Linked DNA regions of Homo sapiens: all the other regions are reported to be linked to region 1. The links are microRNA targets in miRTarBase. Many come from high-throughput screens and were not tested one by one. Region 1 holds a microRNA gene; each other region holds the end of a gene's coding sequence. Distances are between the middles of the regions.
The links. The annotated mature microRNA hsa-miR-4464 reads AAGGUUUGGAUAGAUGCAAUA and lies in region 1 at 4,208-4,228, opposite strand. An mRNA with a match to its seed (bases 2 to 7 or 8) in the 3' UTR can be bound and repressed. Matches are read on the target gene's strand: a 7mer-m8 pairs with bases 2 to 8, a 7mer-A1 pairs with bases 2 to 7 and ends in A, and an 8mer does both.

Region 2: miRTarBase lists KIF6 as a target of hsa-miR-4464. Seed matches in the 3' UTR shown: 7mer-m8 at 6,486-6,492.
Region 3: the mRNA of TTC39C is a reported target of hsa-miR-4464. Seed matches in the 3' UTR shown: 7mer-m8 at 5,876-5,882.

The regions. Positions count from the first base shown.
Region 1 is chr6:90,306,504-90,316,980 of GRCh38, reverse strand. It overlaps MIR4464 (microRNA 4464), which reads right to left and starts at 4,239; the gene lies at 4,148-4,239. The region is part of intron 1 of LOC105377891 (a long non-coding RNA gene); the gene reads right to left.
Region 2 is chr6:39,329,594-39,340,070 of GRCh38, reverse strand. It overlaps KIF6 (kinesin family member 6), which reads left to right. Exons shown (of 23, transcript NM_145027.6): 23 at 3,523-10,081. The coding sequence ends at 3,539. It overlaps LOC105375047 (a long non-coding RNA gene), which reads right to left. Exons shown (of 3, transcript XR_926774.3): 2 at 1,393-1,558. Among named protein-coding and RNA genes, the nearest start is that of KCNK16, 12 kb to the right of the region's middle. RefSeq lists enhancers at 51-552, 3,829-3,908, 9,829-9,908.
Region 3 is chr18:24,129,141-24,139,617 of GRCh38, reverse strand. It overlaps TTC39C (tetratricopeptide repeat domain 39C), which reads right to left. Exons shown (of 14, transcript NM_001135993.2): 12 at 9,201-9,305; 13 at 7,698-7,736; 14 at 4,018-7,133. The coding sequence ends at 7,044. CABYR (calcium binding tyrosine phosphorylation regulated) reads right to left here and starts at 556. Exons shown (of 6, transcript NM_153769.3): 1 at 500-556. RefSeq lists an enhancer at 912-971.

The DNA of each region.
Region 1 (10,477 bases):
AGCCGAGGCAGGAGAAGCGCTTGAACCCAGGAGGTGGAGGTTGTAGTAAGCTGAGATTGAACCACTGCACTGCAGTCTGGGTGACAAAGCAAGACTCTGTTTTAAAAAAATAAAAAAATAAAATAAAAGAAGACTAACAGATAAAGATCCGACCTGGGGCATGAAGCAACGTAATTTTTCTCACAAGAAGACTGGAACTCTATTTCCAGAAATAGTGTGAAATCACAGAACCCAGGACTTGGATATAGAACTGGCCACTTATTAGCTGTATGATATTGGGCATATTTAACCTATCTGAGCCCTAATCTGTTCATCTATAAAAGGGAGACAATAAAACCTACCATGTGGAGTTGTGAAGATTAAGCAAATAATATATATGAAGTGCTGATTCACTGTCTAGTTTAAATAACAATAATTATTGTTCCTGTTCTGTCCATTAAGTGTAAATACTTTGAAGAAAAAATATGCCTCTACTTGGAATTATTTAAGTTTGTTTAAAGGCAAAATTGAATGTTTTGGTCAAAAAAATCATTTTATTTTTCCATGGTAGCACTAAACACATTTTTAGTACCAAAAATGATTTCTACATGCTGAAAGAATGTGATTTGGTGTTTTTCCCTTCTAGTTTTTGAATATAATGCAGTACACGTAGCTAAAAGGCTTCTAAGTGGGTACTGACTGTTGATGCTTACGCTCTCCATAGTTAATATAAACCCTGGATTTACATGGGCTTCAATTTCCTTTACAACAGTTGCCTGAGTAGGATTTATCACCCTTGTCCTGGTGCACTCGGGAGGATAGACAAGGTGAAAAGAACAGCCTAGCTAGTTAGACTGTCTTAATGTGAAAGTGTCTTTGAGCAAGCACTAGCTTTAATTTTCCCTCCCAAATCAAAATATGATGCAGTTGTGTTTACACAGGGCTTGCATCTAGATCTTGACTTTACTTGTATATACTTACCTAAATGCTTAAGTATTTGGGATTTCCCCCTATAAATTACCTCTGTGGTAATCATACGCTGTTTGAGTAGCATCAAATAGGTCCACATCTACAAAAAGCTTTGTTAATTTAAGCAGAAGTCTGGTAACATAAAAACCCTTTACAATAACATGGAGCCCAGATGAAACCCACAAATGCAAGTTTAGAGGTTGAGCGATACTCCCTCCTTCATTTGCCCTGCTGCTTTGATAGTTGAGACTCGGTGAACCGGAACCAAATTCACAAGGGGCAAGCTTGCCATTTCCAGTCTCTTAGATTAAATTGAAGTCTTGTTTTTAATTTCATTTCCTTTTTTATTTAAAAAAAGAACTTGTTATTCACTTTTCACAACTATGCTAAAATGTAAGTTAACTGTCCCAGTGTTGCCTCTCTGCCTGGTTGCTCATTGGATAAAACACAAATGTATTATCAAAAATAGCCTTGGTGCAGGCAGCCCAGCACAACCATTACAGTTAGCTGAGGAGGACTCTAAGGAATGACATAACCAGTATCTGGGAATCCCCTACGTGGTGTTATACAAAAAATCATTAACATGTTTATACTCAAGTCCATTTCAGGTATTGGAAAAGAATAGCTGGGGTTTACACTATATTTTAAAGAGAAAATTATTGGGAAAATAGAATTAATCCTTGAGTTGAGCAAAGATTCATTGCCAACAGTTTTCTAGTTTTGAACCTTGACTCTGTTATTGATAGTCCTTGTCATTCTCAGCAAGTTTTTGAGCCTCAATTTTACCATCTATGACACAGGAATAATACAAGCATGCTTTATTTTCTGCAGTTAATGTACCTGTGAAAACTTGTGTGAATTGAATTGTGGAAAATAAAATTACAAGCTTTGAATATATTAGAAAAAATCAATATTTTAAGAAACCTCAAGATGAATCCTTTTGTCAAGTGAAGAATCTTCTTTATACCTTATTTTTAAAAATAAACCCAATTTTAGTATTATATTTTTTAAAACTAGAACACATTTTAAAAGGGAAAGAATGGTGATTTTTGTGGTCCTCATGGCCATGGGCTTCCCTCTCCTCTTGGAAGGTTTCTCAGGAACCACCTTGCTCTGCTCAGCTCCTTGCCGCAGTGCTGGGTTGGGAAGGTAAGGTGGCCAAAGAAGGGTCTGTGCTTGCAGGATGATTCCTCAGGCATTAAAAACACTGTGTGTTACTGAGAGGATTAAGGGAATGGGCAGTAGAAACCAGCGCTGGGGAGATGGAAGGTAAGAAGAATAGGCGGACTTAGGGCTGATGAGGAAGTTTAAAGCAGAACTGGTAGAGTGCTTGATGTGTTTGAGAAACAAATCGTTGCATGTGATTTAGATGTGATGAATGGAGAGTGACTGAAGGTTGGAGGTAGAGGTAAGGGCCAGGTTACACAAAGCCTCATAGACCAGGATATGATGGCTGTCCTTTATCATAACCTCAGTGTGAGACCCTGTAGGGGCTCTGAACAGAGGGGTGACATGACACCATTCACATGTTAGAAAAATCTTTTTACTGCTAGGTGAGTATGGGTTGGACATAGGAAAGAGTGGAAGCAGAGACTGTTTAGGAGCCAGTGCACTTGCAGTAGTAAGGACAGGAAAGTCTACAACCTGGATGGAGATGGATAGCAGTGGACAGGTTCTATAAATGGAATTTGAGGGTAGAATTATCAGGTATGGCTGAAAGATGGAATATGCGGCAGTGAGGGGAGGAGGGAGCCAATGATGACTCCTAGGTTTCTAGAATGAGTGACTGTGTGCCCTTCACTCTTCCCTTATTTCTCTATAGTCTTTTGGATATAATATCATTATTTCTGTTACTCCAGCTGTCACTCTATTCACAGCTATTCTCCAGCTCGAACCTCCCTTCTGAGTTTCAGACCCATATTTCCAACTGCCTGCTGCACATCAAATGCAATATCCCCTTCTTCATCACCCCCGTGCTCAAAAACTATGAATGCTTCCTAATTGATGAAGAAATTGAGAGCAAAGATCCATGTCTGGTACTCAAAATCCTCTGCCACATAGACACCAGCTCATTTTAGGAGCACTGTCCACAGAAGTGGCATGACATTGTGGGAAAGAATATGCAGAAGGGGATGGGTAGCATCCGCTTGGGTTGGACATGAGCACATTGAATATGGGGCTGTGCCTGGATTATCCAAGGAAATGAAGAGCTGCTCCTCTTTAAGAAGGCTTTTCACAAAAATACTGTTCATCTTAGAATCAGACGCATCCCAGTTTATAATAGGTGTCTGAAGGAAAGTCTAGTGGAAATTGGCTGCTTTTGTCTGCCCAACACCCCTCTGTCCCTTAAGATGGAAATGTGCCAGTCATAGTTTCTGTCTCTCTTTCCTTAATGGCAGTTCCATGGCATAAGCATGTGACCCAGCAGGGCCACACAAAGGCCCGCCAGAGGTGTGCATATGGACCCTGGGAGAGGAAGTGTTGTTGCCCCTCCCCAGAGATGTGGAGCATAAGGACCTGCAGTAAGGAGCCTGGAGCTGCTGGTGACCACCTTGCCCTTCACATGGCGAGTACCAGCTTGAGTATGAGACCAGCAAAGAGGAAAATGAAGCTGAGAGAGTGTCAGGGACCCCAGATTTGGCAGTCACACTAGGCAAATAGTGACTATAAGAATGGTGGCTTGGAGGGAAATGTGAAACATTCCAGCCCACTGTCCTCATCACAAGGAGTCAATGTTTCATTTCCCCTAAACCTGCTCCTTGCCTTTGTGGTGCTCCTTGTCCACTGCTATCCACCCCAGCCCTGGGCCTCCACTCAAGCCAGGGTAGGGGCCACTGAGGTTTCCTTACCTCCCACCTCACAGGCAGGCATCCATGTAGGCAGCAGTCCTGGTTTCTCTCTGGCCATTCCATGCATCCCTACCACACTAGGGCTTTGAGAAGCATGCATGACTACTCCACTACCTCTGCCCCCTCAATCACCAAACTGCGCCCACCCTGGGTTCCCAGTGGATTACTTCAATCCTAAACAGAACTAATTATCTAAACATTTTGAGAATTGTTCAAGACAAAATATGGCACCAGTATACCACAGAGTTGGATACAAAACATAACCTTATTTATTGGAGATCAGAAGCAGGAGCATTGAAACACACACACACATACTCCTACTACACACACATACACGCAGCACAAAACTCTGAATTAGTAAGGTTTGGATACATGCAATAAAGTATGTCCTTTCAGCTGTGGACATACTTTATTGCATCTATCCAAACCTTACTAAGGTTCCTGATTTTTAATAAACTTATAATAGATTGAAGCAATTTTTATTTGCTGTTCCTGATTTTTAATAAACTTATAAAATAATAGATTGAAGCAATTTTTATTTGCATTCGATTCCACATTTGGGGCCAGATTCTCTTTGTGCCTTCTTCTTTGAGTGAACATCGAATGTCTTTGGATGAGCACTGGGCTCTGTCAGGCCATTACAGTTACTGTTTTAGAATACTAAATGTGACACTAGTGACCTAGTGGCATTAATGCACCTTTCAAAAGTGCCCAGTTTTCTCCTTGGAAGTAATTTCAGCAGTGATAGGCTACAACTGAGTAATTTCTGATAAGCAATTAGCACATATCAAATCAATGCACATTACTCAAGGTTTTATACTGCTAGTGGAGATATAGCAGGGGTTACCCATTAAAAAGCATCTGTGAAAAACTTCTGCTGTTATTATGGAAGCAGTGGGCAATATTCAAATCGAGGCAACTCAACCATTAAATAAATGTATTTTTAATCATGAAATGTCACTGTTCTACAGACCTGTTTTTCCTATTAACATGTGGGAGATAATGTTAATGAGATTTAGTTAGTGTTTTAAAAGCAATTGAAGTCTTATTATGAAAGGCAGCAGAAAAGGACACAGCAATATTCTTCTAAGCTGTGAATCACTCCATATCTGTGTGAAATCGAATAGTGTAGAAATCTACATGGGAATCATCTAAGCAACAAAAACATAGAAGACTCCCAAACACTCCTACTCTATATCATTTTTCATACCTAAAATGAAATAAGAAAGCACACTACGGTTGGAAATTTTAATGGGGGGAAGGCCCCCATGTTGATATTTCAGAAAACAGTTCATTCTTGAAGTATGAATGTATTTGAGGTATCAGTCATTGTGTTTACCCATCAATAGTGACTCTAAAGAAAGAGTATCCTATGCACAGCAGATGCTGAACGTGAAGGCCTGGGTGACCATGATTTGTTCCTTGGGACACCCCTCCCCTCTCGCCACCCACCTCAAGCTGGTAAATTGATTGGACCAGGGTTGGGCCAAGGCAGCCAATCCATGCCCGGCCTGTGTTAAATCATAAGTGGAGCCAATCAGATTTTTCCTCACATGCATTTGAACTAAGATCTAATAAATAAGAAAATAGGAGTTGAAGCTAAAAGGACAGATATAGAATGGTCATGAAGAGTCATATCTTTAAAAAGGGACACATTTGTTTTTAAAAGTTTTAGAAAACAGAAATTATGAACATAAAGGGATATCTTGGCTGGACCCCAAGCCAATGCTCGAATTGGCTTGTCTGTGAGGTGGAAGAAGCCCTAGAGATCCTCTGTACATTCACAGAACATGCAAGGGCCATGCAATAAGAATCCAGCCACATTCCTCAGTTTTCCTGGGTTTGCACACACCAGCATGTCTGTTTGACAGGCCAGAGAAGGAGAGAAGGAAAGTGACACGGGCTAAATTGCAGGGAGCAACTAACCCCTGGAAGGAAAACCCCCAAAACAATGAAGAAATCCAGTAGGGTGGACTAGAAGAAGGGCTTGGGTGTGGGATGAGAAGAGTGGCTTTGAATACAGTCTGAAGCGCCATCTGAAATCCAGACTTTCCTTCACAATCTCCACTCCCAGGGAGGAGTGGTGTCATCCAACCAAAAGAACTCACACACACATACACACAGCACACCACCCCACAAAACTCCAAATTAGTAAGGTTTGGATAGACACAATAGAGTGTGCCTCTATTGTGCTTCCCATGCTTCCCATGGGAATCATCGTCCCCCACATCACCTAGACCAGAGGAGGCTAGCAGAAGCAGCCATTTCCTTAGGAGGGAGATGCCCGCAAGTGAGCGAACAGAGGTCCTGGGGTGTATTAGAGGTCAGGGTTGGCCAGCACCTCTGTGGAGCAGCATGGGCCGTGCTATCAAGCAACATGAACGAGGGCTGGAGTGGCAGCCAGAACAGCCATGGCAGAGCCACAGAAGCTAACAGAGCCATCTCCCCAATCCCCCACTGAGTCCAGGCAGAGCTGACGTTCTGCCACTTGGCAAGTGGAGACTAGTAATCCAATGGATGCATGGACAAATTACTCCAGGAGACTTACCCAGATGCTCAGTGGATGGGGCTGAGATTCACATCATGACTTCCCAAGTAAACAGAGAAAGCTGGTCAGAAGTTCAAGGAATGGAGCAGAGATACTCAGAGAAAAACAGAACCCCATAGCCCTTGAGAGACGAACCTGACAGCTTTAAAATTCTAGTTTCAGATTGAATCCATGTGTTTCCTTACCATTACTCCCCTGACCTCTTTCTCATAGTGCCTTGGAAAGGTCTCTACTTCTTGCAACAGAAGAACAATCTAATTAAATAAGAAAATTAAAATATCCAAGTACAAATAACCCCATCATTTCTTTGACCTCCAGCAAATCGCCAAGTTGCTAGTGTTTGCCTGTGTGACTAGCACGCTTGTCCTCCTGCTCTGTGCTTCTCCCATTTCCTTCCCTGAGCCTGTCCTGGTAGCTGACAGGTTTACAATCTTCTCGAGCTGGCATGTGCCAGGCTGCTCACCTCTGGTCTGACTGTGGAGTAGAAGTAGCATTACCAAGTTAGTGCTTCTGGGAGTGGGAGAGAGGAGTAGAAAAGGATACATAAATGCAGCAGAGAGGAACTGCACAGGAAGTAGAAGAAAAGAAGCAAACCAAGACTAGATATGGTGGCCGCTAAGTGGTTCCATAGAGATGATAGAGTAAGTGCAGGATATGAAAGCCCTTCAAGGAGAGCCAGAATCCCACCTTGCACCACTCCGCCTTGAAGCTACCTATCCACCATGCCAATCTGGTCCATATTTCCCAATCTCATGCTTACCAAAATTAAAGGCACCACCAATATTAGAATCAAACGAGACACCAAATCTGACAGCCAGTCAAGTCTAGAAAGCAATCTTTGGCATTTTGTCAGCAACAAAGTACAAGTCTCCATTTTTAATTTTGGGAACTTTCATACTGTACAATTTACTATTTTCCCCATAGCCACCAGTGCTATTTGCCATCTACTTGGTATCTGGACCAAACCCAAACATTTGCTGGCAGAGGCAGCTTATACTGGCTTGGGCAGCCTTGCATGTTGGTCATGAGAAGAGGCCCTGGAGCCAGAATTCGTGAGTTCAAATCCTGCCTCTGGTACTTGATAGGGGTATGTCATTAGAAAATCATTTCACTCCTCTCTGCCAAGCTTCCTACTTCCCAGGGTGCTTGGGGTGACCAAACCTCCTGAATTGCCCCAGACTAAGGGGCTTCTTGAGATGTGGGACTTTCAGTGCTAAAGCTGGGAAAGTTCTAGGCAAACTGGAATGAGTTGGTCATCCAGAGATAAAATAAGATACTGCAAGTAAAGCACTAAGAATAATGAGTGTTCAACACATGTTAGCCATTGATGTTACATGAACCTGCAGCTAATGTGACTACTGGAATGGTCATGCTTTCCCCTAGACTTGGGACTCTGGGACAAGGTCCTGGACTTTTCTCAAAAGCAGGACCCCTTCCATTTCTACAAAGTCCTAGTACTGAGAATAGGACCAAGATGAAGGTGGGTGTGCCTGTGCTGATAGTGAAGTCCATGAGAAGATGGAGAGTGAGTCAGACCCCAGGCTCCTCTTCTGGCCCAGAATAATGCTAGAAGCCAACCCTCCTTCACCATCCTCCCCTAGACCTGAGCCATGCTGGCTGTCTGGCAGATCTACAGACAGAATTTGATCTACTGAGCAAAAACGTCTAGTTTGTAGAGTCAGATTGCCTCTCAGAACCCCCTGACTTCCCTGATAGGAGTTTCAAGGAGTTTCTGAAGAATGAAAGGGGCTGGCAAAATCAGGACAACCCTGCACACTCTGTTCTGCCATCCTGGGGGTTCCATTTCTTGCAGACTCTCCAGACATTTTATTTCTGAGGGCCTTGTGAGTTTCCTCACCTGGTCTCAGATATAGAAGCGAATGGTGTACACTTCAATGCAGGGCTTAAGTACTTACAAGTTCTAGACTGCCTGAGTGTGATTGAAGGCAGCTTATCCTTTTTAAACCTTGATTCCACATTTGAAAAGTTGAGATAATAATTATCAGTATTCACTAAGCACTTACTATGTCCTAAGGATCTGACATACAATATCTTAATTAAACTTCAAGACAAGCCAAAAAGGTATGCATTTTAGAAATCCCTTATTATAGGACTCTGAGGCACAGAGAGATTAAATAACTCAAACTCAGACAGTCTGACTCCAGAACTCAAACTCTCAACTCTATGTCTGCCTCACTGGGTTATTGTGAAAAACAAATTAACACATGCATAGACACTTTGTACATCTACATGCTCAATAAATATTAGGTGTCTTTTTAAAATTTTTATTTTACTTTAAGTTCTGGGATACATGTGCAGAATGCGTAGGTTTGTTACACAGGTACACATGTGCCATGGTGGTTTGCTGCACCTATCAACCCGTCATCTAGGTTTTAAGCCCTGGGATGCATTAGGTATCTGTCCTAATGCTCTCCCTCCCTTTGGCCCCCACCCCTCGGCAGGCCCGGGTGTGTGATGTTCCCCGCCTTGAGGTATCACTTTTTAAGAGGGAGGAGGAGGGCTGAAAAGATAGTCAAGGTAAGTGGTTCAGCATCAGTATACCATTTGTTCACATATAAGAATAGACAGTGGGTCTACTAAGCTAATCTAACACTATTAGACAATTTTAACAAGTGTTTATTGAGCACATACTCATTGACAAGTGCTATACAAAGAACTTGGGGTCTAGCTCTGAGCAAAACCAGACGCCGTTTCTACTGTCCTGAAGCTTATGGCCCAGAGAAAAAGATAAAAAATGAGCAGGTGACTCCACTTGAAAAAAGAGGAATAAATGAACAATTCAAAAAGGAAATTTAAGAAAACAATTCCATTTATAATAGCAATAGAAGAATAAAATATTTGGGAATAAACTTAACCAAGGAAGCAAAAGACTTGCATACTTAAAAATTATAAAGTATTACTAAAAGAAATTAAACACAAAATAAATGGAAAGATATCTCATGTTCATGAATTCAGACTTAATATTGTTAAAATAGCAATACTATCCAAGATTATCTACAGACTTAATGCATTTCCTATGGAAATCCCAATGGTGTTTTTTGCAGAAATAGAAAAATCCATCCTAATTCATATGAAATCTCAAGGGACCTTGAATAGCCAATTCAGTCTTGAAAAGGGACAAATTTGAAGGTCTTACACTTACTGATTTCAAAACTTATTACAAAACTATGTTAATCAAAACAGCATTGTACTGGCAGAAAGACAGACATATATACAAGAGAGTCTAGAAAAAAACCTCTCATATATATGGTCAAATGATTTTTGATAAGGTTGTCAAGATCATTAATGGGGAAAGGAGAGTCTTTTCAACCATGCTGGAAAAATCAGATATCCACATACAAATGAATGAAGACAGACCTTTACGTAATACCATATACAAAAATTAACTCGAAAATGGATCAAAGACCTAAACATAAGAGCTAAAACTATCAAACTCTTAGAAGAAAATACAGGGAAAAAACTCCTTGACATTGAATTTGGCAATGATTTATTGGATACGACACCGAAAACACAGGCAACGAAAGTAAAAATAATCAAATTAGACTACATCAAAATTTAAAACTGTCCATCAAAGGACACAATCAATAGAGTGAAATGGAAATCTAAAAAATGACAGAAAATATTTGCAAATTATCTATCTGATAAGGAGTTCATATCCAGAACATATGAAAAACTCCTACAACTCAACAGTAACAACACAACAACCCAATCAATAAATGGGCAAGCTGAACACAGTGGCTCATGCCTGTAATCCCAGTACTGAGAGGCCAAGGAGGGAGAATCGCTTGAAGCCAGGAATTCAAGACCAGCCTTGGCAACAAGTAAGACCCTGTCTCTACAAAAAGATTTAAAAATTAGCAGTTTAAAAACTACAGGTATGATGTGTACCTGTAGTTCGAGCTACTTGCGAGAAAGAGGCAGAAGAATCACTCGAGGCCAAGAGTTTGAGGCTGTGGTAAGCCATAATTGTGCCACTGCATTCCAGCCTGGGCAACAGAGTGAGACCTTGTCATTCATAGATAGATAGATAGATAGATAGATAGATAGATAGATAGATAGATAGACAGGAAAAGGAATGTAATGGACATTTCTCCAAAGAAGATATACAACT
Region 2 (10,477 bases), 51 Mb from region 1:
ATATGCAGCCCACTTATCAGGGCACCCAGGCAAACACACAGGCCGGGGCCCAGGCACCTTCTCAGCCAAAGCAAACACCTCCCTCTCCCTGCCTGGGCTCTCGAATCTTAATTTAGCTCACAGCGCTGCCTTGGTTACTTCAGGAGTGCTCATTAAGGGGAATTTGTGACTGTCAGCTCAGGAGCAGGAGCCCAGAGAGGGCAATTTAACATAAGCCTCGCCAGCTCTTAGGCTTCACCAAGGGCCAGGATGAATCTATTTGATTTAGGATTCATGGAACAGCATGGAATGTTTAAATCCCTGCCAGGGGCAGGCGTGGACAGGTATATAACACCCGTAAGGGGCATCAGTCATCCGTGGAGTCAACTCTGCTGTTTCCAACTGCCAAGGACAGTTTTTATGTCTGAGGAAATGAGGTTAACCCCTTTCTAGAGGGCCTTTTTGTTTTTAATCTTGCTTAATCCCTGAGTTTGGAAGTATTCCCATCTGGAAAGGAACCATGGTGCGACCCCCATAACCACAAGTCTGTCTTCTCCAAGAGGTGTTAGGAAGAGGTCCTGCCTCTCCCAGCCCTCCAGCCCCACTCAGAGAAACCCTCCAGCTCTCTTCTGTGTTCAGAAACCCTCCCAGGGAAAGAGAAAGAGCCCCGAGCTGGGAGGGAAAAGGCGGAAATTCCAAGGCCATCTCTGCTCTGCGTGACACTGGGCAGGTCACCTCCCCAAGCCTCCCTCTCACTGTCTGTCATGTACAGATTCCACCCTTGCCCAGGCTCTGATCCTTTCCCAGATAATCTCCATTAAAGTCCCTTATCAACTCCCAAGCACCAAGGAATTATTAACAGGGAAGTGGCCTCTGTGGTGAGAGCTGGCCCAACACCATGAGGTGTGATTTTGCTTTTTCTTAATGGTACATCTGTAGTGTGCCCTCCTTTCTGGGAGCCCACGGTAATCAAAACCCCAATACAGACAGAGCTTCATCACTTAACTGGGGCCCATAAAGTGAATGAGTTTGAAATGGTGCCTTTTGTGTTGAGGTCTGTGCATGTAAGGAGCTATGTCTTGGGGCAGAGCGTGCTCTCCCCCCTATTCTGTAGCATTTCTTCCCAGGCCCCACCCCACCCACCCCCTGTCATTACTGCATGCAAGTGTGTGAGGGGCTCAGAGACCATCCTGGGTGGGAGATGGCTCAGACTCCATGCTCCCTACCACCGGCAGCGTTCACAATCCTGGCCCAGGCTGCATTTCAACAGTGCAGCAGAAACATCAGAGCCCAGATCTCATCAGCAGCCACGTGCCCACGGGCCCCCAGCTCTTGCCCTGCCAGTCCTTGTACTAGAGAGACAAAAGCAGTGAGTTTCAGCCATGGCCATGCCTCAGAATCACCTGGACCCACCCCAGTGATCCTGACTGAATGGTTCTGGGCTGTGGTCTGGGCACCAGGATGTCTAGAGATTCTCCAGAGATTTCCGTTGTGTAGCAGAGCTGGGAACCACAAGTCCAGAGTGACAGGAACACATGACCATCATAGGCTCGGTGTACTTGTCTTCTTACTTCCCGTTCTAGAATTCAATTCAGACAGATCAGAATGTCTTAAAAATAAGGACCATATTTGTTTAATTAAACAGCAAGGCCTGCCAGAGGTCTTGCACACAGAATTAGAACTGAAAGACCAAGGGCTCACAGCCGTGAATTATTTCCAATCTCTTCCTCCGCACTAGCTGGCCATTCAATGTATCACCAAGAATTACCCTTTCTTCCACAGCAATATCAAGCCAACCAAGCTAACACTCGTCACCCAGTACCAGGTTCCTGTGGCCGAACCTGGAGGGCTGCAGCTGCCTGCTCACCTGTTCCCTGAGCAGCCTCACCCCTCAGGCTCTCTGTCCACTGAAATTTTTTTAAACATTGTATTTATTACTTCATCCAAGAATCTCAGAAATTCTCTCTTGCTCTTACTAAATTAGCCAAACTTTAAGCAAAATAACTGCATATCACTCTTACCAGTTCTCACATTTTAATGTGCTAATGAATCGACAGGTTTTGTCAAACTGTAGATTCTGATCCAGTAAGTCCAGGGTGGACCATGTCTTAGACTCTGCCTTTCTTAACAAGCTCCCTGGAAATGCCAGCACTGCTGGTCCATGGACCACATTTTGTGAAGCAAGAAGCCACCTTGCTTTTTCCAGGTATCTCATCTGCTCCAGCAAAGAGAAATGTTAGGCCCAGAGAACTGACATGACTTGCCCAAAGTCACACCGTGGGTTGGGGACTGTCCTGGCTAGAACGCAAGGGCCCTGGTTCTCAATCCAGAGAACCCTCTCCATGCCCAGCCATGGGAGATGACAGGATAGGGGCCACATGGTCAGGAGGAGCCATCCTGGAATATAATTAATATCTGGAGGAAAAAGCAAGGAGAGAATCTGAGGATTAGGTAGGAGCATCAATGAAAACCATGGGGTTGTCCAGGTGTGGTAGCTCACACCTGTAATCCCAGCACTTTGGGAGGCTGAGGTGAAGGATCACTTAAGCTCAGGAATTTGAGACCAGCCTGGACAACATGGTGAAACCCCATCTCTAGTAAAAATACAAAAATTAGCCAGACGTGGTGGTGGGTGCCTGTAATTCCAGATACTTGGGAGGCTGAGGCAGGAGAATCACTTGAACCCCGGAGGCAGAGGTTGCAGTGAGCCGAGATTGTGCCACTGCACTCCAGCCTGGGTAACAGAGCAAGACTCCGTCCAGAAAGAAAAGAAAGAAAAAGAAAGAAGGAAGGAAGGAAGGAAGAGGGGAAGGGAGGGGAGGCTGGAGGGAGGGAGGGAAAGAAAAGAAAGAAAAAGAAAGAAAGAAAGAAAGAAAGAAAGAAAGAAAGAAAGAAAGAAAGAAAGAAAGAAAGAAAGAAGGAAGGAAAGAAAGAAAAGAAAGAGAAAGGAAGGAAGGAAGGAGGAAAGAAAGAAAGAAAGAGAAGAAAGAAGAAAGAAAGGAAAGAAGGAAAGAAAGGAAAGAGAAAGAAAGAAAGAAAGAAAAAGGAAGGAAGGAAAAGAAAGGAAGGAAGGGAGGGAGGGAGGGAAGAAAGGAAGGAAAGAAGGGGAGAGAAAGAGAGAAAGAATGAAAGAGAAGAAAGAGAAAGAAAAAGAAAGAAAGAAGAGAAAGGGAAGAAAGGGAAGAAAGGGAAGGAAGGGAAGGAAGGACAGAAGAAAGGAAGGAAGGAAAAGACAAGACTCCAGCCTCGGTGACAGAGCGAGACTCCATCAAAAAAAAGAAAGAAAGAAAAGGAAAGAAAACGGTGGGGTAGGAAAACAGGCGTCAGTCTCAGCCTAGGGAGATGGAGCTTCTGCAAAGGGCAAAGGGGGCCTCTTCCTTCAGAGCTTGGGGTATAAATGCAGCTCCTGGGAGGCAAGACACAGATGCAGTGCCCAAGACCCAGGGGGAGTGGCTGGTGGCCTCCCCTCCCCCCGATTCAATCCTGGGAAAAGTCAGTGTCTGCATGCACAGCCTAACCAAAAGCATCCTGTCTCCCTTTCAGGTTTGGGAAGCAATTGAATTTCCAGGAAATATCCATCCATGAATTATGCCAGCAAGAATGAAGCACAGATGAAGGCAGCGCCCCTCACTTGCTCTGGCTTCAGAAGTGAACTATGGGCTGCTGGGAGCAACTAGTGACTTTGATTCCCATGGAGGGGACTGTGTTTCTTTAAGGATGCTGACCTGGAGGCCACCGAGAGGCTGGGGCTGGGGCTGACCACAACATCCTTCCTGTGGTTGCTGGAGCTGCTGGCAGGGCCAGGCAAGGCCAGAGTGCTAGGGGCAGGGTGAAGGCTTCAGCTCACTGTTGTAGTGACGTTTTGTGTAGATCTTTATAAGCTTTTGAGAATGTGAAATAGCACCATCAAAATATAATGTCAGAGGATGCTCACACCAGTGGAATGTGGGGGGAATATTTTTATTTTTAACGATTTGCCAGCTCTCTCCCTTGGCCCGTGCTCTGGTTTGGAAGCCCAGAAATGGCCATGACAGGTCCAGGCAGGATGTCCCAGCCACAGGCAAGGCAGTGGAATGCAGGGCATCCTGAAGGCCAATCCTGATCTCCCAGACCACATCTTTCACCATCAGCCTCTTGGCCAGGATGACCTGGAGGCAGTGCCTGAACAGCTGTGTCTCCAGGGAGCCATCTGCCCTGCAGGGTCTAAGGACATCATAGCACCCAGAGAACAGTGGGCAGCTCCCAGGGGCTCTGCTGAGAGCTTGAGAGAGGGCAGTGTGGGTACCTTGGGCCTCACAACCTTCACCCAGCCACTTGGGAGGATTTGGGCTGACACTCCCCACTTCCACAGGGAAAAACATAGCTGCCTGGGGGTCTTGTCTCCATGGGCCCTCTCCATGACAGATCCAAGGGAAGGTGGGCAGCCCTCAAGGAGGTTCTTGAAGAACTGCCCCCTGGGCCAGGGGGTTCCAACCCAGCTGCAGCCAGGGAGGGGCAGCGGAGGGTGAGCAGGAGTGGCACCTGGAAATGAAGCTAACTGGATAAAAGTGCTGGTCCACTGCTCCTGGTGTCTCTGTCCTATAAATACAGGACCTGATGACCCTGGAGGGGAGCAGAGTGGTAATATAGTATAATTGGCTTGATTTTCTTTTTCGTTTTTTAGGACTGGGTAACAGGATCATGCAGGAGAAGATTAAACCATTACATTTCTAAGCTAGGCAGGCCCATCGAGCTCCTCTAATCCACACCCCTATTTTATATAATTAGAAGGCCAGAGTGAAGGGGAGATTCAGCTTGCTGTTCTATGCCACTGACAAATGTCCCCTCTTCAGGGGGCTTCCCCTGACCACTCCATCTCGAGTCACCCCCTAGTTATCCCCTATCCCATTACCATTTTTTCTGCATCACTATCTGACATGTTATCCTTCCGAACTTGCCTATTTTTGAAATACCTGCAACCCCCCATAATACTAAGAGCTCCAATGCAACAGGGACCTGTTTGTCTTGCTCATTGCTGTGTCCCAAGCACAGAGTCGCTGTTCAGTAAACGGTCCTTCAGTTCATGAGTAGACGAGCCAGAACCCAGATGTGTTTCTCAGGCTGGTGTCACTCTGACTTCCCCCAGGCTCTGACTGAATCCCATCGGGACAGGGGCCAGCATCTCTGGTCCACTCCTGGCCCTCACAGTTCAATGGAACATAGTAAGCCCTCTGTAAAGTCTGTAGAACCAGAGGAAGACCAAATTCTGATTCTAGAAGCCTCCCCAAGAGTCCATGGAACACACATGTAACTGCACACACACACACACATACACACACACACTCTCAAGAGCCCTGAAGATGGCATGGCATTTGCCCCAGTCCCCTATGTAGCAGCAGCAGTATTCTTGGCATGCCTTAGTGCCCTCAGCCCTCTAGAGCTGGGTAGAGTCTACTAACTTTTATTTTCTTTTATTTTTACTTTCTTTTATTTATTTTTTGAGATGGGGGGGGTCTCTGTCAGCCAGGCTGGGGTGCAGTGGTGCGACCATACCTCACTAGTCAGCCTCCAACTCCTGGGCTCAAGCCATACTCAGCCTCCAACTCCTGGGCTCAAGCGATCCTCTCACCTCAGCCTCCAAAGTAGCTGGAACTACAGGCATGCACCACCACACCTAGCTCGTTTTAAATTTTTTGTAGAGACAGGGTCTCACTGTGTGGCTCAGGATGGTCTCAAATTCCTGGCCTTAAGCGATGCTCCCGCCTTGGCCTCCCAAAGTGCTGGGATTGCAGGCATGAGCCACATACCCTGCCAGAGTCTTTCAACATTAGATCTCCCACTGAGACATCATCTCCTGGATCCAAAGGCCTTACTGACAGAGATGTGTGGCATGGCCCCATGCGGGGTGTGAACCAGCCTCCTGGGGCAATCACTAAGACAGGAAAGGAAATGAAGACAGAAAAACACACAACATGGGATCTGGGGCCACTGGTGTCCAGAGCATATGCAAAGTGTGTGCAGCAACTGGCCAAGGGGCCTTTTGCTCCGAACATCCCCTAATGGAAGCCCAGCCTTTGATATGGACACATGCTTGACAGCAGTGCACCTTCCCAGAGTTCACTGGCCTCTGCAAATGGGAGAAATTGATGCAATGTTTTGAAAAGACTTTCCAGCAATCCACCTGGGATCAGTGGAGCCACGGATGACAAGAAGTATCTGAGTTCACTCTAGGCCAAAATGTGGGATTTTCAAAAACATTTTCTGGAAAGCAGCCTAGCCAGTGACTCCAGCCCAGTCCCTGCTAGAATTCAACTGGCTCTACCAATCCCTTGACAAGAAGTAGGGTGGACGGAGGTTGGAGGAGGGAAGTTAAAATGTAGCTTGCCCAGATCTTGCTAAAAAGGAGTTTTAGAAAGCAGATAGAGAAATTGTGGTATACTGAATACATCATTTTAATTCTTCACCACCAGTATAGAATTACACATCCAAAGCTTTGTCATGGCCCACTTTGACTAATGTGGTGTTGGCAAACCTGATCCAGGCAGAGGCTTGAATTGTGCTCTCATGGTTGAGCTTGCCTCTTGCTCCAGTGATCTCTCTTGGGATGAACATGCCATGGGTAGCTGCTGCCCCTTCAGCCTGGAACATCCAGAGAGCAGACCTGAGCCCAGTCTACAGCCTGGAGCAGAGCCTCCCAGGCAAGCCCAGCCCAGATCAGCTGAACTATGGCTCACCCAAAGACCTATTGGCATGAGAATATATGCTGCTTGTCATAAACCACTGAGGTTTAGAGTGGTTTGTTATATAGCATTAATTGTAGCAATAGCAGACTGGCACAGAAATTGGAACCCAGAGACAGTATATGACTGGATCTAGGATTTCTCAGTGCAGAGTTCATTGTCTCTCCATGCAGCCTGTGGAAAGGCACTGAGAGCATCCTGTATATGGAAAAGCAGGACCACCACCTACAGCCATGATGAAGCAACAAGGACCTGATTTACCCTCCTGCTTTAAATGACTAAAAATGAGACAAAATCCTCTATACAAACCAATGGTTTTCAGCCATTGGATAACAAGCAATATAGGGTATGATTGATCCGCAAGAGAAGGGAAACAAGTGAGGGGAGCCCTATGATTGCTCCAACTTACTGCCTGCAGTGAGTTTTCAGGCTGCAGCCCAGGAAGGGGGAACCAGGTAGAGCCCAGTGGTTTCCCTGAGTTGAGGAAATGGAGCTGGGAATCCAGGGAGGACAAAGTGGCTTAAATTTGCAAGGCAGAGTCCCAGGGATGAGAGAGAGAGAAGGAGAGAGAGAGGAGAAAAAAGAGAGAGAAAGAGAGAGAGCATGCTCTGGAGATCTTCAGAGGGTTACCCTTGAGTCTTCAGCTAACTACCGATCAACATCTGCATGTGAAGAAATTACCCAAGGCAGGGGAAAGAACCACCAGGAGGAAGCAGGTGGAATAATTTCCTGAGATAACACTGTGTTGGGAAGAGTTCATGTTTCCAACAGCCAGAGTGGAGAAACCTCCCAAAACAGTCATTGTATAGAGACACATAAGGTACTGCCTCAGAAGTGGGGCCAAATTAGTCCTAGATGATAGATTGCTCTGGTCCCACCTAACAAAGCTTAAAAAGCCAGCCCCAAAGGAGTCAAATTGTTTCCAGTAAGTTTCCAAGTAACTTCAATGAGTCCCAAAACAAAGCTTCAAAATATCTAAAGGAATATGAAAAACAAACCAAAAAGAAACCAGCATCCAACAATATAGAATCCACAATGTCTGGTGTCCATTAAAAAATAATCAGGCATGCAAAGAAGCAGGAAAATATGGGCCATGAGAGGAGAAAAAACCATCAATAGAAATAGAGGCCGGGTGTGGTGGCTCACTCCTATAATCCCAGCACTTTGGGAGGCCGAGGCAGGAGGATCACCTGAGGTCAGGAGTTCAAGAACAGCCTGTTCAACATGGGGAAACCCCGTCTCTACTAAAAATACAAAAAATAGCCGGGCATGGTGTTGCGTACCTGTAATCCCAGCTACTCAGAGGCTGAGGCAGGAGAATTGCTTGAGCCCAGGAGGCAGAGGTTACAGTGAGCCGAAATTGTGCCATTGCACTCCAGCTTGGGCAACAAGAGTGAAACTCTGTCTCAAAAAAAAAAAAAAGAAAAAACAAATAGAAACAGCCCCAGGCATGGCACAGTTGATAGAGTAAATAGACAGAAACATTTTTTAAAATGCAATGGGTGTGTGTTTCAAATCTAGGCAGAAAAAATGCTCCTTGTAATTCCTTAAACATAAGCATGTCTCATTCATCTGGTCATTGTTTTGACAAGGATGTGCCATCCATTGTGCTAAGTTCTGAGGAGTCAGAGGTGACAGAGACAGAGAAAGTGCCAGCATTCTTGGAACCTTCTAACGAAGGAGAGGGACAAGCCAGGCATGGTGGCTCACGCCTGTAATCCCAACACTTTGGGAGACTGAGGCTGGCGGATCACGAGGTCAGGAGTTTGAGACCAACCTGGCCAACATGGCGAAACCCCATCGCTACTAAAAATACAAAAATTAGCTGGGTGTGGTGGTGCGCACCTGTAATCCCAGCTACTCTGGAGGCTGAGGCAGGACAATCACTTGAACCCTGGAGGCAGAGTTTGCAGTGAGCTGAGATCGTGCCACTGCACTCCAACCTGGGCAACAAGAGCGAGACTCCTTCTCTGAAAAAAAAAAAAAGAGAGGGACAATAAACAAGTAAGCAAGACAATCTGATTAAGAAGGAGTTGGGGTTAGCTGGGCATGGTAGCAAGCGCCTGTAGTCTCAGCTACTCGGGAGGCTGAGGTGGGAGGATCCTTGAACCCAGGAGGTTAAGGCTGCAGTGAGCTGTGATCACACCACTGCACTCCAGCCTGGATGACAGAGCAAGACCCTGTCTCAGAAAAAGAAGAAGGAGTTGGGGGTGGGGTAGGATGGGCTTGGACTCACTATCAAGGTGGGTGGGAGTGTGAGAACCCGGCAAGGTGCAAAGAGAGAAGCAGGGAAGGGAAGCTTAGGACAATGATGGCAGGTTGGGTATTGGGTGATGGGAAGAGGCAAAGGACGTGGAGCTTGGCAAAAAGGGGACTTGTGGGGATTTGGGCCATGTGAGCATGTGGGGGAGACAGTGTTCCTTCCATAACACGTGTCCAGGGACTGCCAGGGCTCCGAGGCAGAGCAGGTGTAGAGAGGTTGGCTGTGAATGTTGGATGTTGAAAACATATGTGTCAAATGTGGGAGGAAAAAGCAGTGTTTCCTTGAATACAAGCTCCTCCTCACCTTGCGAAAAGTGGCCTCTGAGTGTAGCCCTGAATGCATCTCCCAAGGAATAGGAGGAAGCAGCAACCTTTTCAGAGTTAACTGCTTTATTTGGGTTTTCCATGGCCTCGTGCCAGCCAGCAGGGCTGAGCCAGTTTCACCCACACTGAGAGGGAACTCAGCAAAGAGCAAGCAGCATGCCAGCTGGTACTCTTCCCTCTCCATTCACTCAGCTCCTGATCTCAGGAGGGCAGCCCCTCCCCAGGCCAGCACCCCTCCCCTTCTGGCCCCAGGTGTGGGATGTTGTTGTTTTCTTTTCTCCGAAACATCTCCTGGGTTTGTCTTTTCCATCACTGTCTTTAGACTGAGGCAAGCAGTCCCCATGCCTTCAGCCCCATGTTTTGGGGGTAACCTGTGCTTTGACATGCTTTGCTAAAAACTTTCTAAGTCTCCCTCTGGTGCTGGGACCAGCCATGACCAACAACGTCATCCATGCAGGCCACCCCTAACATAGTCCAGGCCTCATGTGGGTCTCAGTTCCCTTTTCTTCTTTCAGGAAGTTCTCCAGTGCATGCATAGGGTTGACCAGATGTCCCAAGGTGCTCTAGGACTTATGCCTATGAAGCTGTTTTAGGGCTTCCTAGTCAGTCCCTGGTTCCAGGAAAGCAGCCTGATGAGGAGATCATTCCCGCTGGCTGGTGTGGCATTTCTTTTATGGCACTACCTGGGATTGGGCCACCAGACCTGCGCTAACATGCTGATTTGATGGACTCTTAACATCATAGGACAAAGAATCGTCATGTGAACCAATTAGACAATAAACAAATGCCTAAGTGCCTCTTCTCTGTCATTATTCTAAATCTACACAAATCAATCATTATACCTCACATGGGCTCATGAATTTGGTACTAAGTTTTTTTCATCAAATTGTTTATACACACAGGGGTCCATCCACAAAAAAATATTTGCCAGGACCCTCACACACCAAGAGCAGCTGGCCCTGTCTCTCCTCTGGTTTCTGGGCTCAGTATCTCTCCCAGGCCCTGGGGACGCTCTGCTCCTCCCTGTCTCAGCGGCACCCCTCATCTACATCCTGGCTCACAGCAGCCCAGGCTTCTTGCTGCTGCTGCAGCTCCAATGACTCTCAAAGCTATGGGTTTTTCTTATAGTCTGAAGAGGTGAGGGGATGTAGGGAGATTCATTAACAGGGGATGGCCAGCAGATCTTTTAACAA
Region 3 (10,477 bases), not on the chromosome of region 1:
GTCCACCACTGGCGGAATTTAAATCCTGCCCCGCCCAACTGTAAACGTCCATGCGCCCACTACCACAAGGGTAACGCCTTAAGCGAGAAATACGATGCCTTTCAGGATGCCAGCGGGGACTTCGGAGCCATAGGTAACCGCACTCCCCGACCTCTCCCTAAAGAACCTCCGGGATGTGGGCCCCCGCTGTGTCAGTGCTCGTTTTGCGCTAGGTCTGTTTGGGAGAGACGGGAGTGAAATGTAGGAGGCTGGGCGTGCTCACATCGCCTGGACTTGTCCAAGAGAGGCGGGCGACGGACCCACCGAGGCCTCAGATTCGGCAGCTGGCCGTCTGGTCGCCGCACTCCCCGGTGTGGGCCGGGGCCGCCCCACAGGCCCCCCACCCCCGACTCTGAGGACCCTCCGCCTGCCCCGACGACCTCTCCCACTGCGAGAGACTCCCTGAGACATAATGGTCTCCGAGGCCGCAGGGTGCGCCTTTTCTCCAGATTCTCCCCACCTGCTTTCCGGCCGCGCTCTTAAGAGCTTCCTCGTTGCCCCCTTGCCGGCGGCTCCTGAGGAGACTTGGCGCTTGCGAGCGTTTTTATAGCCCCGCAGGCATCGGGGCGTGCATCACGAAGCTCCGCATCACAAAGCTCCGCACCACTCAAGGAGGCGGGGCCACAGCGGCCGCAGCCAATGGGGAGCCGAAAGCGACAAAGGCCATGATTTGGCCGGCGAGGGAGACTTATTTCCCCTTTTCTGGCTAAATCTGAACGGATTTAGGTGATTTCCCAACAAATAGCCAGGAGTAGCTCAAAGCGACTGCCTCTCCGTCTTTGGTCGTTGAGCTTAAAATTAGAGCTCGTTTGGAAAGAAAGTAAGAGATTTATGGCAGTGCTGTCTTGTCACTGCCTCGCCATTCCACACATTGCTCCTGGCCCCATAAACTATAGCTCTCTTCGGTCACCTTTAGGAATAATAATTTCTGCCACGTTGTAGACACACAGTGAATAATTGTATGCAACAGAGCACTTTTTCTTTTGTGAAACTCGCCTGTGGAATGGGAGTTCAGCATGAATCCAGAAACTTCCTGTTTCTCCACAGTTGAGATCAGACACCAACTATCCCCACAAAGCACACCGTCAGCAACAAGTCAAGGTGTTACTGTGTGTAACTTCAGCTCAATTTTACCAAACTAAAGGAATACTGCTTCATTTAAAAACGCCCACTCTGCCGGGCACGGTGGCTCACGCCTGTAATCCCAGCACTTTCGGAGGCCGAGGCGGGTGGATCACGAGGTCAGGAGTTCAAGACCAGCCTGGCCAAGATGGTGAAACCCTGTCTCTACTAAAAATACAAAATATTAGCCGGTCGTGGTGGTGGGTGCCTGTAATCCCAGCTACTCTGGAGGTTGAGGCAGAGAATTGCTTGAACCTGGGAGGCGGAGGTTGCAGTGAGCCCAGATCACACCACTGCACTCCAGCCTGGGCTACTGAGCGAGACTCCGTCTCAAAAAAACAAAAAACAAAACAAAAAAAACAAAAAAACGCCCACTCTCTGCTCTTTCACTCATTTAGGCTCAGGTATTTGGGCTGGGCTCTAAATAACACCATAATCATGATTATCAGAGTACAAGCAGCCTTAATTTTGATCCATCTTCAAATGTTTAAAAAGCAACTACTTTAAACCAAAGAGCATCGCCAGGGCAGATATCTGACCAAAAACAAAACAAAACAAAACAAAAACCAAACCAAAATAAAACAAAACCCTATTTTTTAATTCAGAAAAAATTAGGGCTTCCAGAGCACTTTGCAATAAAAGCAATGTTAAGGCCTCAGTCAGCATTATCTGGTGCCATTCATTAATCCACTTAATAATTATTTTACTGAGTGCCAGGAAAGCTCCCTCTTCTCGGGAAGTTTACATACTTAAAAAGGGAGAATTAGCGAGACTCCGTCTCACAAAACAAAACAAAAAAAAGGGAGAAATGCTTTTAGACTGAGTATGTTGGTGGGTCTGCAGATATTTTTCATCCTTCATCACTTGCCTCCAGCACCACTTTGGTAATGTAAATAAAAGTGAGATGAGGCTGTCATGATTTCTGATAGCTTGGTTTATAACACATTTAGGTGTCAGAGACATAATGAACTGAGCTACTGAAAATCCTAAGTACCTCATCTATGGTGTCTTTTGGAATTGGAGACATTTATGGTTTTTTTAACGTAACCTTGGTGGGTCATCTCAAACATCTATTAGGTGTAAGGTATTATGCAGAAATACCTGTAACTCAAAAAACAAGATTTTACTCTCCATTTCTTCAGTGACTGTTTGGCTGAGTCATTCTGAAATGCAAATTGTTACAATGTAAACATCTAACCAAGAATTTTCAAACCACTGCCCATCGCTGCTTTGATTTCTTGAACTCTTAATGATTTGATGTGGTTTCACAATCTTGGCTTGTGTTCATCTCCCTTTCAATCACCAGTATGTTATTTTTTGGTCACCAATGATTTAAAACGCAAATGTACCTTCCACTGCCCCTCTCCCACACCCCAAATCCTTACCCTATGGAAGTCCATGGTTGTGGGTGTGGCCTCTGCATACCTCTCGTATTTCATGTCTCACCATGTGATTCCCACTTGACCCTCCAGAGTCTTGAACACACATGTCGCTTATCACCTCTGTGCTTTTGCTCATTAGGTCCAAGGCCTTGGATGCTGCTCCAGCAAGTGTTTTCACCTGACTGCATCCTGCTTCTCCTTTAGAACTCATCTCAGAAATCTCCTACTTTAGGAAGCCAGTGGGTTAGAAGCATTTTCTCAGTGGCCCCATGATGTATGCTCTATGACTTATCCTTGCTATATAATTCTATATAATTCTGCTTGTGTTTGACTCTTCTCCCAGATTTACCAAATCCTTAACAAAAGATGAATAGGGCAATGTTTCTCTAATCCACATCACCTGCATAAGAAATCATCCCAGGAGCTTGTTAAAAATGCCTTCCCAAGCCCTACCTAGAACCTACCAAACCAGAATCTCTATGTAAAACACGGAAATTGACAACCACTGGCCTCTGGGAGGAGGAATTAGGCATTACATAGAGGTCACCTGGGTTTCAAGTGTGTTGCTTCTATTTCATACCCAAGTCAACTAGGTGACAGAGATCAGCCCCCTTGCTAGCTTTCACAAGAAAGCCAGTTAAATTGTGCTCTTGGTGATTTCTGCATACTTTACTGAAAAAGGAGCATTATCTGTTATGGACCAACTTTCTCTTGCTCCCCTTATCCTTCTCTCTTTCTGCATTTCCTCTTCTAGCTTCTAAAGTATCTGCCTCGACTATGTATCTTCTTGGATGATCTCGATTTAACAATTTTCTTTCTACAAAATATACCATCTGCAGAAACCAAAACAGTACATCATGATTTTGTGAATGTGTATCTTCATAGTGAAAACCGTATTTGAATACTTGCCACCATGATTTGCTTAAGGAAGAAATCCACTGGAAAAGTTTACACAGCAAAGGTGTGTGTCTGCGTGTGTGTGTGTGTGTGTGTGCATGCCTGTGCATGTGCTCATTTTAAAAATCAGATATGACTTGTCCTTTAACTTTAGTTGGCAGAGACAGAAAAGTGCAAATTCAGTAAATAATTGACTTACACAATATGTGACAATAAATACTCTAATTTTCTGTGACATCTAAAAGTTATAATTCTTTACTCAGTAGAAGACAGCTATCAGGTGCTAAAATAAAAAAAAGATACCTAACCCAATAAAGGCAAAATCTTAGTTATATTAACCAGCAAGGTACATATTACATTATTATTACTAGACCATGCCTCCAAGTGTGTCAAATTATAAAAATGTGTTCAGCATACATAAAATATACATTAAAGATTTCTCTCATCATAGGCACAATCTAATACAAAAATATATTTGACATTTATAAGTTAGAAGATCCATTGAGAGCCTCCAAAATAGGACAGGGGAAGGAATGAGTGATGACAACATAAAAAAAGAAGCACACATAGATGCAAATAGTTCCACTTATATGATTATTTTCTTCATCAGCAAAGGGTTAAGAGCAGTTTACACCAAACCAAGTTACCAAGCAGATCACAATCAGTTCACAGGTTGGATAAGTCACGGCACGCAGGCCAGAAAATGTACTCAGACTTCAGTCAACCTAATGGGACAGTGTACTCACACTGTGGTTTTGTTGTTTTGGAGTCTAGAAGCTCCATCTACCCATTCTCCATGGTCTACCACCATGTTAACACAGATTTACCACAGGCGCCATCTGTACCAAGCCTAGGATAGACTCTTTAAAAAAAAAAAGACCTGGCCGGTCACAGTGGTTCATGCCTGTAAGCATTTTGAGAGGACAAGGTGGGTGGATCATGAGGTCAGGAGTTCAAGACCAGCCTGGCCAAGGTGGTGGAACCCTGCCTCTACTAAAACTGCAAAAATTAGCCAGGCACGGTGGCAGGAACTTGTAATCCCAGCTACTTGGGAGGCTCAGGCAGAAGAATCGCTTAAACCCGGGTGACAGAGGTTGCAGTGAGCACAGATCACACCACTGCACTCCAGCCTGGGCAACAGAGTGAGACTCTGTTTCAAAATAAAAATAAAAATAAAGATTAAAAATTTTAAAAAGACCTACACTTTGACTAGTAAAGAAAACCTACAGGATGGTGTTGCAAAACGCAAAATTGTCTATCCAGTTAAGTGAGCTGAACACAAACTAATCTGAAGTCCTGAACTCTCTGTGGGGAAATAAAAGTATTTTTTTTAAGCAGGCAGAAATAAATGTTTTGAAAAAGATTCAAAAGCACAGGACCTTATATAATCTTTGAATGTGGAATAATAGTTCAAACAATATTTTGAACTGAAAATTCAAGAATGAACTCTCAAACAAAAATGTCATGATTCAGAATGCTCCATGATGATGACAGAAAAGCTTGTCACCTATGCTGCATGTTAAGAAGAGAGAAAAATGGCAACAGCCGTATTTTAAAGATTCATAATGTTCTTCCCTTCCATCTAGTTAAAACCAGATGTCCAGGCCGGGCACGGTGGCTCACACCAGTAATCCCAGCTCTTTGGGAGGCCAAGGCGGGTGGATCACGAGGTCAGGAGATGGAGACAATCCTGGCTAACATGGTGAAACCCCATCTCTACTAAAAATACAAAAAAAATTAGCCGGGTGTGGTTGCGGGTGCCTGTAGTCCCAGCTACTTGGGAGGCTGAGGCAGGAGAATGGTGTGAACCCAGGAGGCAGAGGTTGCAGTGAGCCAAGATCACGCCACTGCACTCCAGCCTGGGTGACAGAGCGAGACTCCGTCTCAAAAAAAAAAAAAAAAAAAAAAAAAAACAAAAAACAGATGTCCAATATTTTTGGGCACCAATTTTGCTCTTCAGAAAAAAGTTCCCTTCTCATTCACTGAATATAGGAGAGCAATCTCTTCTCTCTTACTATTATCTAAAACCCACACGGAATTCACATCAGGGAGAAAGTCAATGTGAATACACATTTTGGAAACAGTCTACTGAAAAGTGGTCAGTAACAGAGATGAAGAAATATGAATACTGTTTAGCCAAAATCAGTGAGAAATAACTTCTTTCAAAGAAATTATGACTATTCCCTCAAAACAAGGTCAAATCAGATAAAATTTGCCAACATTCTACTTGCTTTTCTGTTTTATTTTGAAAAGAAATATTAAAATATTAATATGAGATCATGTTTCAGCCAAAAGAATTTGTAAATAAACGATACCCTAAAATGATATCCTTTAGCTCAATAAAAATTTCTTTAAAAATCTAACCTTAAACATTGAGCCAAATTATGGCAGAGATTCTTAAAAGTGACTGAGGTATTTAGATTCTTCAAAACCACAGGTTTGCAGTACCGGGCATGGAGGTAAATTAAATGACAAAAATTAGCAATGAAGAATAAAAAAATAACTTTGAATTCCTTGTATAATATCTAAATAACCTGAGCTAAGGGGAAAATGATTAAATCCTGGCACTGTGTAGCCCAGCAAATGTTCCACCAGCAAATATTTTGAGGCCAAAATCTATGTTCATTCACGAATAACCTTTTCAAGTAATGTGTCAAAAGATTTCCAAAAGTTGGTAATTTGACAATTTTCACAAAGAAAGGTAAACTCCTAAAATGTAGATACTGTTTGTCTAATCTATAGACTAGGCTAATAGATTAGCAAAAGAGTCACACTTTTAGTTGTAAAATTATCTTCTATTAATATTTGCTCTTACTTGGTTGGCTTTCAAAGGAAAAAGAGTGTCCATCGCTTTGAAACATTCTGTAGACAATCTGGAGATGACTATTTCTGGTGACATAACTTCAGCTGAAGATTTTGTTCTTTTAATAAGTAAAACATGGAATTCTGGCCTATTAACATGAATTATTTTTACAATAAAAGTCAGTTGGTGGTCAGGAGATCTGCTTTCTATTCATTGCTCTGCTGATAACAGGAATAATTAATTGGGATAAGTCAATTTGCCTTTTTGTGCCTGAGTTTCACTGTCTGCAAAGTGGGGTTAAGAATATCTGTGCTATGTTATTCACTGGAGTATTTTGAGGATAAAGTAAAACACTAGAAAGCACTTTTATTTTTTCAAAACACAAATATAAATGCTATGTCATGATATTGTTAATAATTTTACAGGTACCTCATCATGTTACCCATTCAGATATGTGCTTAAGGTAGGTGTTCCTACAGGATCTTGGGTTGGATGTTCCGTTTGATTTTATTTTAAAAATAATAAATCACAAAACTAAAACGTTTGAGCAAGGTCACTTAACCCTCTCCCCAGGTGGTTAGTTATTATTACCATCATCATCCTCCTCAACATCATTATTACTTTTCAGCTACATGTTTAAAAGAGGAGATCTTTAATATGTCAGCTTAACTGGGAAAATGTGTCCCTGGCACAGGTGGTTTTCAGAAGAAAAGCCCATCTTCACAAGAGCTTTGTCCTCTGCTTTTATTTTAAAGTGCGGACCCTGGGTGGGGAGGGACGGAGCGGGTGTTCCGGGTCTGTCACTGAGGAACCAATTCCCTCAGAGAGGCCAGAGCAGCATGGATGCGGACATGCAATCTGTTTTCAAAGTCGTAGCCAGAGAAATCCTCCTGTAAGATCAAAGAAAGATATTTATGCACTCTGTTAGCTAAGCTTGCACAGGGTACTGTGGTATAAAGCACACTCAATTTTGCATTTCCCAAAGTAAAATCTCTACACTCCCAGTAAAGGTTTCCCATCCACTTGATTTTCATATTACTCAAACCTCAAACTTTGTATTCATTTTTAAAAACGTCAACTGAATGTCAATAAGGTTCTCTTTGGACAATTTTCCTCGAGTTATTCTTGAAAAAGTAGTCTTATGTTGTGCTCAATATAAGTTGCTATTAGAAATTCTTAATTCAGGGACATAGTTATAAAATCAAAAGTTATCTTCCCACCCAAAGACTAAGAGTGTTTCTAAAGCAGGATGAACAATTTCATCGAAGTTCCTTATGATCTTGTAATGTCCCTTAAAACTCAAGAGCTCACTGATTCAATTGGTTGTCATTTTTCCTTTCCAGAAATATTACCAACCAGAACATCATTGCACAAACTTTCTTGAATTCAGACTCAGGTATACAGTGTATGGGATAAGAAGGGCCACTGGAGAAAGGTAGATTCAGGATATTTACCTTTGCTTGAAGAAGTAGAGCTCTGCCTCTTCCTACAGTCTATAAGAAAAACACATTATCCCATAAAATCTGTGTTTATATATACGCAGGCAGAAAATGGTATAATAGGAGGCTATGTTAATTAAAACAATTCACTGTAGACATAGCAATGAGTCAACTGTTCATTCAAGTATAATGACTCCAATATTCTTCTTTTTTTTTTTTTTTTGAGATGGAGTTTCACTCTGTTGTCCAGGCTGGAGTGTGGTGTGCAGTGGCATGATCTTGGCTCACTGCAACCTCTGCCTCCCGTGTTCAAGCAATTCTCCTGCCTTAGCCTCCTGAGTAGCTGGGATTACAGGCACCTGCCACTATGCCCAGCTAATTTTTGTATTTTTAGTAGAGACGGGATTTAGCTCTGTTGGCCAGGTTGGTCTCAAACCTCAAGCGATCCACCCACCTTGGCCTCCCAAAGTGCTGGGATTACAGGTATGAGCCACTGCGCCCAGCCCCAATATTTTTTAATATAAAGATGTTTACTCATTTACATGAGGACATTACTTGATATATAATCACTTGATAAATAATTTTTCATAGTCTATAAAAGGCAACCTCTAAGATATAATATCTTAGGTTAAAATCTTACTAAACAACCTTAAAATTAATGATTATCAAAAGGTTTTATCTGAATCAGTAAGTTATACATAGCTATAAACTTTTTTTTTTTTTTTTTGAGACAGGGTCTTGCTCTGTTGCTCAGGCTGGAGTGCAGTGGCACAATCATGGCTCACTGCAACCTCAAGCTCCAGAGATCCTCTCACCTCAGCCCCCCAGGTTAACTGGGACTACAGGCACATGCTGCCACGCCTGACTATGTTTTTTGATTTTTTTTTTTTTTTTTTTTTTTTTTTTTTTTTTTTTGCAGAGATGAGGTTTCACTTTGTTGCCCAGGTTGGTTTTGAACTTCTGGGCTCAAGTGATACTCCCACCTCAGCCTCCCAAACTGCTGGGATTACAGGCATGAGCCACTGAGCCTGGCCATATTTTAACTTTTAAAAACTGTATTTTTACTATACTTTTTCTATATTTAGATACACAAATACTTACCATTGTGTTACGGTTGCCTACAGTATTCAATACAGTAACATGCTGTACACAATTATAGCACAGAAGCAATAGGCTATAGATACAGCCTGGTTGTGTAGTAGGTGATACCACCTAGGTCTGTGTAAGTACTCTATGATGTTTGCACAAGGAAGGAATTGCCTAACAACGCATTTCTCAGCATGTCATTAAGAGATGTATGACTGTAATTTGAATGCTAGGGAAGAAATTACCTCCTTAAAGATAATAAGGTAGTATTACTAACTTCTTGGATTCATTCTAAGTAAAACCAAGGAAAACAAAATGAAGAACACTGTGTTCAGTTTGTTTTAAATGAAGGGTGCTTTGTGCTTGCCCACTTCCACATTTTTGTTGAACAACATTAAAAATATATATTATATTATATATATAAGATCTTACCTCTGGTTTGTCTAATAGAAGACAGCCAAGTTCATAACAGGCATACGGCTGAACATATAAGTTATTCTGACGACACAATTCATCTTTAACAGCTCGCTGGAAGTACTGAAAGGAATGCAAATGTTATTGGATGAATTCATTTTCCTACTTAGCATAAGGCTTATTATAATCTTCAAGAGGGGGCGGGAAGGGGGACTCATACTCTGTTTTCTAGATCAGATTTTCTCTTCTTTCCTCATCTTCATTCTTTCCTATCTACATCTTAGAAGTCCTTTACATGCTGCCTGATGTGCATTCCTCAGAATATATTGGACTGCCTAATTTGTGCTACTATTTTTCCAGGGGACATATTAGCCTCTATTGATTTTATCACTGAGAACATCTTTTATCTGCATCTAAGAGTCTAAACATCCCATTTTAATATTTAAAACAGAAAACACACAAGGTAACTATGATCTCGACATGCGTCTTGACTGTATCTTGCTAGCACATAAGCATTTGATCTAAAATAAGCTATTTAGGGCTGTGATAACTATCATAAGCCCATACTGAAAGATTAAACTTACAAGGACATTATCATCTAGGATTTAAAAGCCAAGAGTCTCCTATTACTGTACATTAATTCTTTTTTTTTTTTTTTTTTTGAGATGGAGTCTTGCTGTGTCGCCCAGGCTGGAGTACAGTGGTATGATCTCAGCTCGCTGCAACCTCTGCCTCCTGGGTTCAAGCAATTCTCGTGCCTCAGCCTCCCGAGTAGCTGGGATTACAGGTGCATGCCACCACACCTGGCTAATTTTTGTATTTTCAGTAGAGACGGGGTTCCACCATGTTGGCCCGGCTGGTCTCAAACTCCTGACCTCAAGTGATCCATCCACCTTGGCCTCCCAAAGTGCTGGGATTACAGGTGTGAGCCACCGTGCCCGGCCACTGTACCCTGATTCTTTCAAAGAGTAGTCAAAGTAACACTGATATATACTTCTTCAAAACAAGCAATCAAACAAAAAAACAACTCTCTCGCTTGACCCCCAGGGCTGCATCAATAATCCACAGTTATAAAGAGAGAAAACTGAATGCACACTGACATGTCTGATCATTTTTGTTCTTGTCTAACAATGAGACTTCACTCCGCTCCTTCAAAACTGCCTCCTCATGTCCTCCTCTCTCCAGTGGAGGCTGTCATCTTGATAAATATTAGTGCCAGAAAAGGAGGCCATATATAAAGAAGCATTCTAAGAATATGAAGTTAATTAAAAACTAGTATTAACCATCATCAACTT